2 separate regions of the Homo sapiens genome follow, and region 1 is linked to region 2. Evidence: fine-mapped expression QTL. Tissue or cell type: whole blood. Region 2 holds a variant in brackets; the other region holds the start of a gene. All regions are shown on one strand. Distances are from middle to middle.

What was found. PIP is the estimated chance that this variant, and not a neighbour inherited with it, causes the effect.
Region 1: it holds the start of KIRREL3, and the variant in region 2 is fine-mapped to the expression of KIRREL3 in whole blood (TOPMed, PIP above 0.99). The same link has a PIP of 0.9 or more in blood mononuclear cells.

The regions. Positions count from the first base shown.
Region 1 is chr11:126,995,859-127,003,962 of GRCh38, forward strand. It overlaps KIRREL3 (kirre like nephrin family adhesion molecule 3), which reads right to left and starts at 4,912. Exons shown (of 17, transcript NM_032531.4): 1 at 4,597-4,912. The coding sequence starts at 4,651. It overlaps KIRREL3-AS3 (KIRREL3 antisense RNA 3), which reads left to right and starts at 7,052. Exons shown (of 3, transcript NR_040078.1): 1 at 7,052-8,104.
Region 2 is chr11:126,439,365-126,447,468 of GRCh38, forward strand. It overlaps KIRREL3 (kirre like nephrin family adhesion molecule 3), which reads right to left. Exons shown (of 17, transcript NM_032531.4): 9 at 7,395-7,522; 10 at 5,615-5,741; 11 at 1,085-1,185. Among named protein-coding and RNA genes, the nearest start is that of ST3GAL4, 88 kb to the left of the region's middle. RefSeq lists enhancers at 3,185-3,867, 5,290-5,843, 5,844-6,397, 7,511-8,079. The variant A/G (reference allele first, on the strand shown) is at 4,449.

The sequences.
Region 1 (8,104 bases), 560 kb after region 2:
CTCCTGCTGGCCCTGGCTTCCACCAACACAGGCACACACCAGGCAGGGCTGCTTCTTGGTACCATGCCTAGCTTGCCGCTGCCTGTTCCAAGCCAAATCCTCCTCTGTACACCCAAGAGGGGGACCCCATGGTATCCTCTTAGAGCAATGTGAAGGCCTTGACCCCACCCCACTCGTCCTCCCCCTAGGGACTTTCTTTTCCATCCTCAATAGGTCTGGCTGGCAACTGAGGACTCCCTACTGGGATACAGACATGCAACCACCCCCATTTCCAACAGACATGCCCCAGTTTCCCCACCCGAAGATTTGTTAAAGAAGTGGTCCCACACCCTTGGCAGCTGTGTATTGACCTTCTGGCACAAAAGAACTGATTCTTCTTCCTCTAGACAAGACGTCATCCCACATGGGGTTCTGGTAGGAGGGAGAAACACACATTACTTCCCTCATCTTTTGTTTTATGACATTTCTGAGTGAGTGTAAGTGTTTCCAAAGTTGCTGTTCACTCCCCACTTTGTTTGCTGATTCCTTCTCTGCCTGTACCCCCTATGATCCCTCCATTCTTTAGGCCACCTCTGATGTGTTCAGGCTCTCTTCCGATGCCTCCCCAACCCTGCCCCTCCCAAGGGAACTCCTTGCTAGTTCAAGCCTCTTGAAGTGGCTCCTCCTTTTCCATGCTTCTTGTCATCTCCATGGCTCCCTTCACCCTGGCTGGCTCCCTCTGTTCACTCTATTTTACCCTTCTGTCTACGAGATGCCTTTCTATTCCCTAGGAGATTCAGATCACCATGACCCTCTGCCCTCTGACAGCTGCTGACAGCCCCTTTTGGTGTTTCCAGCCAGGCAGGAGAGCAAGTGGGCTGCTTAGATTCTTCCCAGTAGGGAGATGGTACCTCAAATGCATCCTTAGCTCAGGGATGCCATTAACAGGTAAATGCAAGTTTTCACTTTTACCCCAATACAGTACAGTGTGCATGCAAAGCCAAAAGATCTGGGTTCAGCAGAATTAGAACCTTCACAACCACAGAATCACAAGGCAGGACAGGACGCTCTAGGAATGCCAGAGCAAAATGCCAGAGAGTAGGGAAGAGACCACCTTTCTTAAGAGCGAGTGTCTGGAGTAGAAGGCGCCAAGTTCTTGCCACTGTGGCTCCCCTGTCTATCTCCCCTGTCTCCGAGGTGGAGATCAGAGATCTCCCTGGAGGCAGGGAGTCATCAGTCCTCTAGGACCTTATTCCCTCCAAGCTACCTAAGCTGTGCATGTGCAGGCTGGATGGGATGGGGCTTGAAGCTTAAGGAGGGCACAGAAGGAAATAGTTGTGGGTGAACTGAAATGATAAAGAGGAAAAAATATAGCAAGTTCTAAGTTTATGGATGACAAAAGAATCGATTATTTTTTCACCCAGGGGCAGAACATGTCTATTCTCAGCAGGAGGCAAATTGTGCTGTGACATTATCCCTCTCTGAACAAAGCATGACCGTCCTGACAGCTGAGGGAAGAGGCATCCACGGCAAGGGAGAAGCCCACAAGCAGTACACACTGGCAGCTCTCCATTCCCTTGTTGGGAGCCAGGCCTGGGGACTCTGGCGGGGGTGGAATCGGGAGGAATGTTATTTAGCCTTACTACTGCCACCTTAAGAAAGATAAAGAAATACTTGATCTCAATCTACATGAAAAGCCCAAACTTTCAAAGAATAGGGACCCACCATATTACTGATATTAATTATACATTGATTTCTGTTCTCTGTCTCTCTAAAAGGTTATAAGAAAAAGTAAAGGTAAACAAACATTTGACAAATTAGGAAGAAAAGGATGGCTGGAACGGACTTTAAGAGTTTATTTGTATCTTGAGAGCACTGCTTGGAGCACTCTCTCTGCACGGGGACCAAGATACTGGGAGCATGGAGCTTGGGAATCTTGTTCCCAGAAACTCCTAAGTGCCATGCAGATTCCCACTGTGAGATGTGTTGGACAGCAGATGGCCATGTCATCGGAGTGCCAGATAAGGCACTAAAAACAACCCTGGACATTTGTTGTCTCTGAGGGAAAGGCCATCCCCTGGGTCTCTTCACATTTCCTGGGAGAGGCATCCCAGCATGCAGGAGGCAGGGGTCAAGCAGGTGGCTGTGTGAGGGTGCCGGGTGGGGGGGTGTAACCTCAGGCCTCATTCTGGGGGATCACAGTGGAGCCATTTAGAGCCATGTGGGCTAGACCTCCCAGGACCTGTTAGACATGGATGCGTTCTATCCAATAAGTTGATGAATGCATGACACTGGGTAGAGGTGGGGCACAGTACATGAGCTAAGCATATATGTGAGGATGGTCAAATAGAATCCTCTGGGGAATTCATAATGCTCAAAACAACATCCACATAAACAAATTTCCACAGATCAAGGCAAAAGATAACCATATCACATTGCAGTGAAGTCCATAAAACACCTTCCCACTTGATGGCTGGACCCCTTGATTCCCATAGTCGGACACTGTCTATTCAAGAAGCACACCATGTACAGGGATGCAGGGTATCTGACCAGCCATGTCCACTTGGGTCTCCTCATTTTTGTTTAGACCTGTTTTCCAGCCTCTGGACCAGGTATCTACCATTTGGTAGGGTGGACAGTGATGGCCAAGCTCAGAACACTCCAGGAGCACAAGGCATTAAGAACTGCATGATGTTATGGTTTCTTCCTAGCGCTCTCAGGACTCGGGGTAGATAAAACAGAGCATTTAACCTCCATAGGTAAATATTTAAAGATTCACATGAAGCAGTCAAGAAACAGCTCCAGACCAAGAAAGAAATAAGCACAACAGAAGATGTACACTGTAATGATTCAGACGGCCAGGGAGGTACTTAGACACCTATAGCCTTCTTATGCCAATCTACATAAGTATCACGGATCAAGCTTCTAACTACACAAAAGGCTGATTAAAGCATGCACTGGTCCCATGCAAATGTGAGTTTGTGTGTTTACGGGGGGTTGGTTGGAAGATTCCCTCCTTCTCAGGGGTTCTATATCAAAACTTCCTGAGTGAACTGGTAAGAAGCAAAGACGAATGGGAGTGTGTGTGTGTGTGTGTGTGTGTGTGTGTGTGTGTGTGTGCTCATAAGCAAGCACATACACATCCAAGAAAGAGGGTAATCTTACCAAATGGTAATATAACTGAACCTGTCTCTATACCAGTGTTCTGAGAGAGTTCTTATTCATTCAGCCTGAAACTCTGGGGAAGGCAATTTATCTTCCTGCTGCTGTAGGGAGCCTTGGTGAGAAGCACACAACCATATGAATACATGAGTGTGTGTGTGTGTGTGTGTGTACATACATTATCATTATACACAGGCATTAGTATGCACATACAAATATGAAGAAGGAGCCCCTTCGGTTTCATCAGGAGGACCAGAAGCAAAGTTTGAACTGCACAGATAAGGAGAAAGTCTGCAGTGACCACAAGCACGGGTGGAAGAGCAGAAGAAGGAAGCCAGGTTTTTGCTTATATTTGGCTTCTCCCCGACAGGGGAGAAACAGAAGACATGCTGTTTGCTTGCAAAGCCAGCCACCCATGGCAGTGCTTTGCTTTCTCGAAAACTTTTACCCTTCATTTAATCAACAGATGGACGTGCTCTGTTGTGGATTTTTTCTGAGTCTTGCACCTCTAAGAGCTGTGTTGGCTGGCACAAATGCAGCCTCAGATGGCAGAGGTGCATTGGCATTCCAAAAGAGCGGGAAGGAGCCCATGTACTTGCCCCTCCAAACTCAATTCCACAGGTGACTTTTGATGCCTTTGGCCAACTAGGCACTCACATTCCCTCTCCCGAATTTCCCTCTCCTTTCTGCACCACTACCAGCCCCAGGGCTCCCAGTGGCAAGGAGCCTAGAGGTGGCAAAGTTCTTTCCGGAGAGTCCACCTGCTTCTCTGCCCCTGCTAGGCTGCAGAAAGGAAACCATCAGCACCACGGGCGAAATTTCATTTTATACCCTGAATTCAGTGCTGTGTAGGATTCAGAATTCAACCTAATTTAGGGAACTCGATGACGTTCAATGAAACTCTTTACAAGCTTTTCCCAACCACTGCAAATTACCCCCCACAATACATTCTGTAATTGCAACCCCCTTTTCAACGGTGCAAACCACACACATTCGCTTTTGAATACACTTGTGCAAGTCAAACCCTATTCAAGCTGAAATATCCACCTAAACCAAGCTCTCCCTCCCTGCCGTCTCCTTCCCTGGCCTGGGTCTGAAGGAGAGGAGGTGCCCAGAAGTTCAGAGCGGCATAACCACAGAGATACTACCTAATTAACATACCAGAAGCATAAAGAACTCATTTGCATTGGAGAGTTTGAGCTGGATATTGACAAGTGAGAGGAGAAAGTCATTCCCCTCCCCTCCCATACCCCTTCTTTCCAAAGGAAAATAAACAGTACCATTTTGTTGCATTCGCAAAGGCGAAGAGGCAATGCCAGAGCATCTCAGCCCGGCACCGAGAGACGCATCCATCAGTCCGAGTTCCCGAAGCCTGCCCACGTTCCTGCCCACAGCCTCCCGCGCCCTGACAACCCAGCCGACTTTCTTCCAACTCCAGCAGCGCAGGGGTCCTACCTTGACTGAAGAGGAAGAAGCAGACGAAGAGCAGATCGAGCTGGAAGGGTTTCATTCCTTAGCGCAGCGAAGGAAAGCCGGCGGGGTAACTTGGCTGTGGTTAGTTTCTCTTCCTTGGCGGCTCTCGGTGCTCAGCCTCCGCCGGTCCTCTCGGGTTCGCGCCTACCATCTGTCCGTCCGTGGGTCCCTCCGGGTGGCTTCGGTCTCTTTGTGCCTCTGGGTATCTGCAGCCAGCCGACACAAACTGCCTGTTCTTAGCCGCCTCGGGAAGCCGGGATTGTCAGCAATGTCCCCACTCGGAGAAGATCCATTCTCTGGCTCTTGGCATCCCAGGCACACGGCTTCCTCAGGCGGGCTCCTCCCACAGTGAGCGAGCGAGCTAGTGACGAGTGACAGAAGGACTCCTTTCACTGAAGCTGAGGCGAGGGGAGAGGGAGGGGAGACAGGTCATAATTAAAGAGGAAACACTCGGAAAAAGGAGATCTATGCAAAACGGACAGTGGGGGAAAAGGCTGTGTTCTTTCTTTTCCCTAAATAGGGAAAAATTCAGCTTTTGTCACCATTATTGACCAAAAGGCATCTTGAGCTTGGAGTGGAGCTGTGACTTTTTGTCCACACGATGTCCTGTTTAACAGTGAAGTTAAGGATGACTATCCACATGCATGTGCACAAAAACATGCACGCCCTGCCTTTGCAAAGGAACTGGAAACTGGGCTGAAAGGGAACTAGGAAGGGGGGGTGCGCATCTTTCCCTCGGAAGGACTTGGCCAATGTGTGCAGCGGGAGGCTCGGAGTTGGAGAAGAGATAAGCATGCTTTGCATTTCTGAGAGTTTCCTGTGGGTGGGTGGGTGGTTGTGGTGGGGGGGGGGGGTAGGTAATAAAACCTGAACATTTGGATCTTAGTTTGCTTTGCACTGCTCCTGGAAGACAAAATGCAGGAACTAAAGGGAAGGCAAGTAGGCTTGTGACACACACCCATTTATTATCATTATCCTGGTTTGTGCATTTCCTAACGAGGACAGGGGAGCAGCCTGTCTTTGCATTCAGAGCCTCTCCTCTAATGAGCGCTCCATCACTCTGAGCCTGTCTTTTCTCCAAGAGGTGCTGTGAGTCCAATTGCAAAGGAGAGGCCAAGGTCATAGACAACTGCGTCCTAAGGATCTTCAAGCCTTTTACCTGTCATGAAATTCACACTCCACACTCAAATCAAACTCGGTTTCCTCCAGGATATCAACATGAATTTATCTGGGTCTATTTACTTAATAGACATTTAGGCATGCTTGGTATAAGCAGGCCATGGAGGGAAGCAAAATAATAGGCACAGACCATGCCTTCAGAAGCTCATAATCTAGTGTGCAAGCAGAGTACACACACAAGATGCAAACTCTAAGGACATAACAAAACAACACAGAAAAATATTCAACGTTATGCACTGTGAGAAGGAGAGGTAAAGAGAGAGGAGAGGAAAATGAAAGACGCTCCCCTGACATGTGCCATTTAGCATTCAATTCTAAAATCAGTCATTACTGTCTTCAGTCCCTGGACCTTGGGGAGGTCTTTTGGGAAACTCTTAGCCTTTCCTCTTTCAGTAGTAGCACATCTTTTGAGGACTCTGCTCACTACAAGGCACATTCCAACTCCAAGTTTCCATGCGGATGTTAACTTTAAAAAATTATCCCTTGGTATTTGTGAACAAGAAAGAAAGAAGCAGGGGCATATAGAAGTGTGCTAGTAGGAGCTGACATCTGGTAGTTGACACCAAAGATCTACAAATTAGTAGGTGTCTGCTTTGTTGACTTTTCTATTCTTAACTTAATAGTTTATTTAACTGCATCCCTTAGAGGCTGTTAAACACAGCAAAGGGAAATTTGTAAGCAAACTTTGGGAGGAGAAACAGAAATGTTGAGCAACAGAAACTAAAAGGACACAAAAGAGGCAGCCCATTAGCTAAATTAACAAACAAGTTACTGAAGCAGTGTCAGCTGAGCCTGAGTCCATTAGCCTGGTGTAACAGATCATGCAATAAATGGAAGAGGCAAATCAAAAACACACAGAGGAGATGAAAAATAATTTTAAATAACATATGCCAAATAACACAGTAAGACTGAAAATAACTCTATGTATAGCGCCGTCACCTTAGTAGTAGCTTTGCATTAAGCCTATGGGGTTGTTGGGGAGAAATTTCAGGTGTCTGCGTGCCATTCTTGCAGGGAATAGGACAAATACTAGAATGCAGATTCTCTATCAAAGGTAGCAACATTTGACGTTTTAACTAAAGATTTATCCTTTAAGCTGTTGTTTAATTTTGAGTGCTAATTCCTCAATGGCCCAGGGCCCAGATTTGCTTAATTCAGCCCCCGAGGGAACTATTACAAAACCAGGGTCACAAGGCTAGTGAAGTGTGCAATACGCAATAATCAGGCACACGTACAGGTGTCTGCACTCCACACTCGCACTGACTCTTGGAAAGAAGAGGGGGGCCTGGGAGATCCAGGTTGGAAGGATCTTGTTTCGCTCTCCCATTGGCCCCCAACACTGGCCTCATGGCCCCCTTACTGGCTCCAGGCATCCCCCTCACCCCCACCAACGAGCCAGCTGGGCCTGTTCCCCTCTCCACTCCCCTCTACTCCCTCCCTGTAACCTCCGGTCTCCCGCAGAAAGAAAGAAAAAAAAAAAAGCTTGGATTAAGTGATGAGCTGCCCGCCTCTAAAAGGACCAGGAGGCGTATCAAGCCTGAGTGCCGGAAAACCCACGGCAATCTTCAGCAGCCACCACGTGGGGCAGAGAACGCGAGCAGTACCTGCAGGACCCACAGCCGGTCGGGCTCTGGCGCCAGCCTCGACGGCGGCCCCGCCATCTCCGCCCGGCTGCCCGCGGCCTCACCTCCTCCGGGGGCTCGGTTAGCCTCCTGGCGCTGCAAGGCTGCCTGCGCGCGGTTCGCTCCGGGGGAGGGAGGAGGAGGGAGGCGGCGAGGAGCCGACGGCTCCACCTGATGGAGAAGCGCGGAGAGTCCCTAGACCTCGGAGTGCGCTGCAAGAGGGGAGAGGAGAGAGACCGCCGCCCCTGCTGGAAGCCTTCGCGTCCGGGGGCGGCGCGCGGGGGAAGGGGTCTCTGGACAGTCGGTGGAGGCGGCAGCCCTACAGAGACAGCCGAAAGCCAGCAACTTGGAAAACCGCCCGAATTCTGGGTTTCTGCACATCCAGGCTGGCTCCAGGTCTCTTGTGCCCACCGTGCAAGCCGGCGGGATGCCAGCAGGTGGCATCCTCTCCAGCGTTTCTTCGCCAGGCGTGGAGTCCGGAGGCCGAATCCATCAGTCCCCAGCCCCCTCCCCAAGCCTCCGGTGCCAAGTGCTGGGTCCTGTGAGCCCCTGGCCCGCCCCCCACCTCCGCCAGCGGGGCGAGCCGGAGCTGGGTGACCCAGACCCTCGCGGAGGCGGGAGCCTACAGAGGATGCCGGCCGGCCCCAGGTTCTGCTGCTGGCTGGCCAAGAAGTGACAGGAGGGCAAGG
Region 2 (8,104 bases):
CCTTAATTTTTTTGTTGTTGTTGTAGAGACAGGGTCTCACTATGTTGCCCAGGCTGGTCTCAAACTCCTGGGCTCAGTCGATCTTCCCACCTCAGCCTTCCAAAGTGCTGGGATTACAGACATGAGGCTCCTGCTCAGTAAGACCCTCCCTTTAAAAAAATGCAGATACTGGCTGGGCATGGTGGCTCACGCCTGTAATCCCAGCACTTTGGGAGGCTGGGGTAGGAGGATCGATTGAGCCCAGGAGTTTGAGACCAGCCTGACCAACATGGTGAGACCCCATCTCTACTGAAAATACAAAAATTAGCGAGGTGTGGTGGCAGATGCCTGTAATCCCAGCTACTCAAGAGGCGCTGAGGCATGAGAATTGCTTGAACTGGGAGGTGGAGGTTGCAGTGAGCCGAGATTGTGTCACTGCACTCCAGCCTGGGTGATAGAGCGAGACTCCATCTCAAAAAACAAACACAAACAAACAAACCCAAAAAACACACAAACAAAAAAACCAAGCAGATAGCTGGTAGGAGGCGCTGAGGGTGGACTCCTCAGTTGCCTTAGCTGCATTGCAGGGATAAGTTCTTTGAGGAAGGGAGAGAGAATGGAATGGTCACTTTAGAGGGGACGATTGATAGGCAACAGGGCAGGCTACCATGGACAGTAAAGGCCACAGAGACCTGGCAAGGAGGGCTCCAGGAGGCACAGAAAGGGGTTGCCAACTATTACCTGCGCTCTAAGATTTTGCTAAAGACTGGCCTGGAGCCCAGGAAGAGAAGAAGTCACTTGTCTTTTCTCTCCACTACCCTCGTGTGCCCCTCTGCCCTTAGGATGCGGAATTTGGTCAGAGCCGTTCATGTCAGAGCTCAGCAGAATGGCAGCTGAACCCTGGGAGAGCACTGCCTGTTCTGAGAAAGGCCTGCAATTGTGTCTTCACGATGCTTTTCCAAGACAGCCAAGGCAGGTATAATTTTCCTCAGCAAGAAAGAGGAACCTCGGAGGTGTGCACCGCCTGGCTGGCCACCCAGGTATTGGCAAAAGTGACTGTTGGGCTGCTGGCCCGGCCCCCGCCCGCCGTCCCTGGAGCACTCACGATGCGGTCCGGCGGCGGCGTGCTCCGGATGAAGCACTTGATCTGGCCCTTCTCGCCGTGGAGGGCGTGCTGGGTCTGGGTGCTGGAGATGATGGGGGGTCCTGTTGAGAAACAGCGTCCCATTAGGCACCCGGGAAGGGCACGTCCCTGCTGGCGCCCTCTTGGGTGGGTTCAGAAGTGTATTCATTAATCCAAGCATTCAGCAAACATTTGCCGAAGGCCTGTATGTGCAAGGTAAAGTGCAAGGTAGAGGACTCAGAGATAAATTAGGCATTCAGTCATAAACCTCTCAAGGGATCATGAGCGAATGCTTCTAAGTCAGAACCCCCAGAAGATACAAATAACTGTAATAAAAGGTGGTGAGTGTTAGTACCACAGGAGCGGTGCAGATAAAGTGCTAACCGACTTCAGAGGAGAGAGAATAATTCTATCTGGCGGACGGGGAAAGCTTTAGGGAGGAGGTGGTAAGCCTGCAGAGGGGGTGGGGAGGTGTCTAGATGAAGGAAGACTCCCCCGCCTCAGCCAGCGGCACCCCTGCGAGCCATTCCTCAGATATCCAGTAGAGGGCGCCCTTGCCTAACAAATGGGAGCTGCTCGGCCAGACGGGCCAACGGGAAGAAATGGTTGCTGTCCCTCTCCTTAGGGCGGGAATCACCCCGGACAGGGGGAATGCATGCGCTGGCCGTGTTCACAGCCCTCCTCCCACCTGTGTCTCAGGAGGTCCTGCAGTTCATCATCTTGTCTGCCTCCACGTCCATACCCAGACTGCCCAAGTGAGGCCATGGCTCCCAAACTGACCCCAATATTATCATATCACAGAGTGTGGCACATGTTTATGGGTGTCAGGTTCTGAGAGCGCCTGTCTCATTCACCACATTGCACAGCCAAGAGAGTTCACCTGGTGGAGGGGAGCCTGTTCCCCAGCGCCTCCTGTCCAGTTCCGCCTGTTACCTAACCCAAGTCTTTCCCCTGTGACGCCTGCCTGGCCGTGAAAGACAAAAGAAGGAGCAGCTAGCTTAGCCTGGGCTCTGCTGGCTTCCTGGCTGGGCTGGGTGGTTGAAGGATGGGAGTAGGGACGGAAACTGTCATGCTCCCTTTCCAATCCCTGGGGTCACAGTTGGGACTTAGATGGCAGATACCAGAGGAAAGACAGCCGGGAGCAACGCATCTGGAGAACACACAGAATTATGCAGGAACAAAACAAAAATTGCTGCAAACATAATTGCTGTTTATTAGCCACCTTAATTAAAGCAGATTTGCATTTCTATGAGTAGCTCTCAGCCAAGGGAGAAAAGGTACTGTAGACACTCCAGTGACTTCTGTTGAGTTTGAGAAGGCAAAAGGGCTCGGGGCAGCGTGAGGTGGGCGTGGGGGACCCTCCATGGCTTTAAGAATGGGCTGAGCGCTGCCCTCCTTCCTAAAAATCCTTCAGCTCCAACAGGTCTAGGACCCAAAGAGATGAGGAGATTGATGTTTTAGGAACCGGATGGTGCTTTGTTTTATTGCTGGACTAAAACGTGATGATAATATAAAACCTTTTCTGGTCAGGTGCGGTGGCTCACACCTAGAAACCTAGCACTTTGGGAGGCTGAGGAGGGTGGATCACAAGGTCAGGAGTTCAAGACCAGCCTGGCCAATATGGTGAAACCCCGTCTGTACTAAAAATACAAAAATTTTTAGTATTTATTATTTAGCCTCCCTACTTGGGAGGCTGAGGCAGGAGAATTGCTTGAACCTGGGAGGTGGAGGTTGCAGTGAGCCGAGATTGCGCCACTGCACTCCAGCCTGGGCGACAGAGCGAGACTCCAGCTCAAAAAAAAAAAACAAAAAAAAAACAAAAAACCCAACATGCACAGACACACAAAACACACACACACACACACACACACACACACACACACACACAAAACCTTTTCCTTGTGCTTCCCAGGAGCTAGGAATTCCCTGAGGGGTTTTCATGATTCTAAAAGCCATCATCAAATGCATCTGCTTCTTAAAAGAAAATGAAAACCAGGATAAAGGGAAATGGGGTGAGGGTTAGTAAGATTTCTCTCCCCTTCCTGCAGATACCTGATTTGAGCCAAATCGGTTGAGGTGTGTGCCAATTTCTTTCCCAAAGGACTGCTGCGCTGGCCAGCAGTTGTCCAAGGCTGGGATTTGTCGCGATAAAAACCTGATCTCATTTGAATGCTTTCATATCACCAGCTCCCTCCAGCCCATGCCCAGGTCCCATCCACTGGGCGTCCCCCCTCCCTCTGCCTGCTCTGCAGAAGCAGGGGCAGACAGTTCGCCCCCTGGCAGGTCTGGTGCGCTCCCCTCCGGGGCCACTGAACTCATCCACCTGCCTCCAGGTGTGTGAGGCCACCCTAGTCAAGAAATAAACAAGCAGCTTCTTTGCTTCCCTCCAATCCCTCCAGCTTTTCTCTGCCTGGAAGCCTCGGGGAGCTTGTGCTGGCAGGGGTGGAGGCAGAGGAGGGGAGAGAAAGAGACCTGGAGAGTGCAGATTCAACCTTGGTCAGCGCCAGGGCCCGGGTTTCAGTGCCCTCCCCGTCCAAGAGAAATGTCCCTCCCGGCCTGTGTTCCCCAGGGGGCATTCTCTCCTCAAGAAATCTCTTTAAATCTCCCTTGGAAATGTCTGAACGTCTAAAGTGACAGCAGATGTCAGCTCCTCCTTTATCCACCTGCTTTTCCCCAGAAACGCCAATGCTCATTTGATGCTCCAGGCTTGGGGGCCCTGGAGTGCATGAGTGAGTGTGAGGGTCCCGGGCTGGCTGGTCATAGGGCCAGCAGAGCAGAGCCGGCTGCAGGCACAGACAGCCTGACTTCCGAGTGCCCTGGCTGGCGCGGGCTGTGTGGAGGGCCGCTGATTTCACTGGGGCCTGGAGCTCTGAGCCGAGTGTCAGACACCTGCGCTGAAAGGAAAAGGCTGCAGCCTGTGTTGCCATGGATATACGGAGGCGCGATCAGATGCTGTTATTTTTAGCCCTGCAGTGCCAATTTATTGGTGGCATCCTGGGGACACTCAGGAAAGGCAGGAGGGCTCCGACTCAGGGCTCTGCCAGGACAGGTGGCTGTGAACGTGCTGGGGTCTGGGTAGACTCAGCCTCCCTTGGGGGCTGCCACGACTCTGGGGTGGGGGGAGAGGAATGGAAATGCGGGGCAGTGTGGGGGGAGCTGGTGAATGGAGACAGTAGAGAGGTATGGCTGAGGAGACACCAAGCTGGTTTTGGTTTTCTAGCGAAGGGGAGAATAGATGAGGCCATCAGCAGGTGGCTTTCTGGGTAGAGAGGAAGCTGAAGCCCACGAGCTAATTTGGAGACCTCAGGAGGGCCCTGCTCTGGGGCCAGGACCCAGATGTCCTGCA[A/G]ATGTTGGTGGTTCAGTTCCTGCAGGGTCCCAGAGCTTTGGGGTTTTGATCTGAGTCAGGCTATGGTGGGAACAGGGGCCTCCCAAAGGGCAGTGGGCATGACAGAGGTGAGGGGGGAGCATTCGGAAACGGCAGAGGAATCGAACTGGCAGCTTTGCTTTTTGCCTGTGGCCAAAGCACCAGATAGGGCAGGGACGTCCGCATTTGCGTCCTGGTGCCACAACCTTCTTGGGTCTGGCCTGAGCCAGGTCTCAGCTTCTCCATGACTGTCTACACCCCATCATTCAGGCCTGGTGTGATGCCCTTGTCCCTACATATTTCATGTAACAGTCATTCATCTACTAACTCCCACCGTGAAAATACTCCCCTGCTGCAATTATTTTTATTATATATAATAAGACATGCCCCCTGCCCTCAAGGGGGCCCCTGAACACGTGGCCTCGTGGAGACGGTGACAGGGCTCCCTGGCTGGGTGACTCACACGCATTGGGAAGAGGCTGATCAGGAGCTGCAGAGATGCTCTCTTAAATTCTCATGGGGCCAGGAGAGGTGGCTCACGCCTATAATCCCAGCACTTTGGGAGGCCGAGGCAGGTGGCTCACTTGAGGTTAGGAGTTGGAGACCAACAATGGTGAAACCCTGTCTCTACTAAAAATACAAAAATTAGCTGGGCGTAGTGGCACGTGCCTGTAGTCCCAGCTACTCAGGAAGGTGAGGTTGCAGTGAGCTGAGATCGTGCCACTGCATTCCAGTCTGGACAACAGAGCGAGACTCCATCTCAAAAAGCAAAAAACCAACAAAAAATTCTCACGGGCCAAGGCCATGGTGAGTGGATGAAAGGGTGGACACGTTGGCCACCTAGTGACCTCTGATGCTTTTTTTCCTGGCCAGGATAAAATTCATCACCCACCACTCTCAGGGCTGAGACCCCTTCAAAGCTAACAAACAAAAAGAGAGGTGACTAGAAAACTACCCAGGCCCTTCCTCCCTCAGCCTGGGTCTGACGGGGAATCCAGGAGGTGGACCTAATTGTTGTCTACCCATAGTTGGAGGTGACAGCAAGGCCCAGAGCCAGCGACAGCTCCTTTGGGGCTATGCCTGGTGCCAAGATGCCTGAGGTCCTTCTTCCCTCCCTCAGGCCTGGCTCACCCCAGCGAGGGTCTTACCATTGACGGTCAGGGTCACCTCTCTCTCCCCGGCTCCCACACGGGGCACCACAGCCCGGCACACGTACTTGCCCGCGTCCTCCTGGCGCACGGATTTGAGGGTCAGGGTCTTCTCATTGCTCAGGACCTAGGAGAATTGGCAGGCTCAGATGCCAAGAGCAGGCGGAGGGGTGCACTCTTGTCTCTGGGAACAAGGCAGCTGAGAGGCTGGCCTGGGGTAACTGAGGCAGTCTCCGGCATCTCAGTAGGAAGCAAGGTGGGGAGGAAAGAGGCCAAAAGTTTCCTGGCCCAGACAATGCCTGTGGGCTGTACAGAGGAGACTGTACCAGCAGAGAGGCCACCCCGTGTGACTGAGGATGTTACATCCCAGGCGCAGCCCTGTGGGCTGGGGGCATGTGGGGGCACATGTGCCGGAGGAGGGGGATGCCTGCCTGGGGACTTCCAGGTTTCCTCCTACAGGAACCTCCCTGTACCTGCGGTGGCTTCTCCTCTCCCAGGCTAGCCATGGGTGACATGATCCTACAGCTGAACTTCTCTGGGGGCTCCTGGACCTGTTTTCAGAGTCATTTTCAGGATCCCTTTGGGATATAGCTTGGAGTGATGAAAACAGGCTCTGGCATGAGCTTGGTCTGCGTTCGAATCCCGGCTCCAGCAGTGAACACCTGTGTCTCTTTGGTCAGTTACTTATCTTCTCAGACGCTCCCTTTCTATGTATGGAGGCTGCTAGGATAATGCAGCGTCTGCTACATAACAGGCCACACAAAGGTCGGTTTCCTTCTGGTCCCCCTGCTTCCCTACCTGGAGCTCTCCCTGTTCCTTCCTATGTGAGGACATCTGACAATCTCTTATGCACTGAAGAATATATACGTCTTAAAAGAGGAACACAAGGGCTGGACACGGTGGCTCACGCCTGTAATCCCAGCACTTTGGGAGGCCGAGGTGGGCGGATCACCTGAGGTTGGGAGTTTGAGACTAGTGTGACCAACATGGAGAAACCCTGTCTCTACTAAAAATACAAAATTAGCTGGGCGTGGTGGCCCATACCCATAGTCCCAGCTACTCAGGAGGCTGAGGCAGGAGAATTACTTGAACCCGGGAGGCGGAGTTTGTGGTAAGCCAAGATCACGCCGCTGCACTCCAGCCTGGGCAACAAGCGCAAAACTCCATCTCAAAAAAAAAAAAAAAAAAAAAATGGAACACAGGAAAGTGAAGCCCAAGTCCAAGGCTAACGGTGGCTTTATTTGGGGGAAGTTTAAAAGGCTCTTTCTTTCTCTTTCTTTTCTTTCTCTCTCTTTCTTTTCTTTCTCCTTTCTTTCTTTCTTTCTCTCTCTCTCTTCCTTTCTTCCTTTCTTTCTTTCCTTTCTTCTTCTTTTTTTTCCCCAAGGTCTTGCTACGTTGCCCAGGCTGGACTTAAACTCTTGAGCTCATGTGATCCTTCCACCTCAGCCTCCTGAGTAGCTGGGACTACAGGTGTGTGCCACTGTGCCCACTTGAAAAGCCTTTCTAGTGCCTTCCCTCCCAGCACATTGGTGACCACCTACTTTTCTTGTAAGGTTTAGGACAGGGCAAGAGTGCAATGGCTGAATGTGCTCAGGGTGGGACAGGCACATGGGGGTGCCTGGGTTCCCCCTCCTCTTTCTGGGATCTTTCTCCCTGTGGCTTACACTGGAGGCTGACTCCCCCAGTCTAATAGTGAGAGGGGCCTGGGCAGCAGTTCCTTCTTGCTCCACTGTCCCCGCCCCCTGCCAGAGGTGCCCCGAGGTCTGAGCTGCAGCCTCACCACTCCGGAGCCCCGCTTCATCCAGACGATGGTCAGGGATGGGTTGCCGGTCCAGGCGCAGCTGAAGATGGCATCAGAGCCCAGATCCACGAGCAAGGATTGGGGTTCTGTGGTCATCCGGGGCCCAACTGCGATGTGAGGAAGAAGAAGACAGGTTCAGGTGGGTGGGGAGCTCTGGGATCCTCCTTGCTGCTGCCTCCTTTTCCCCCTAGACCTTGACTGGGGGGAGGCAGGCAGTGGGGTACTTGTGCCACCTCAGTCGCTTCCATTTTAAGTCTTATGTCCGGGCGGGGTCTGGGATCTGGGAGTGGGACTCAGGAAGCAAGGAGGAGACCACTCTCCCTGAGGCTTCGCCTCTCTTGGGCCCATGGAGGTGGTCGGCAGCGTGGGGCCTGGGAAGAAGGTGCTGGGGACCAGGTTCTGCCTGGATTTACCCCCACGGCTCTCATCCCCTTCCCTCTGTCTGGATCACGCCCGGTGCTAGAAAGCTGCGGAAGCCCCTCCATCCCAGTGGCGGGCAGGGGCCCTCCTCCTGCCCTGGAAATCTGGGCTCTTGGGATCTTCATGCCTCTGCCTTCAAGCTAGCTGCCATCTCCTCCAGCCTCAGCCTTCATGACCTGGAATCGAGTGACTGGTGCACCTCTGGGGTGGGATGGGGGCTCTGAGATGCAGGGTGATGGAGGCAGGGCTCTCGTGACCCACGCCTCCTC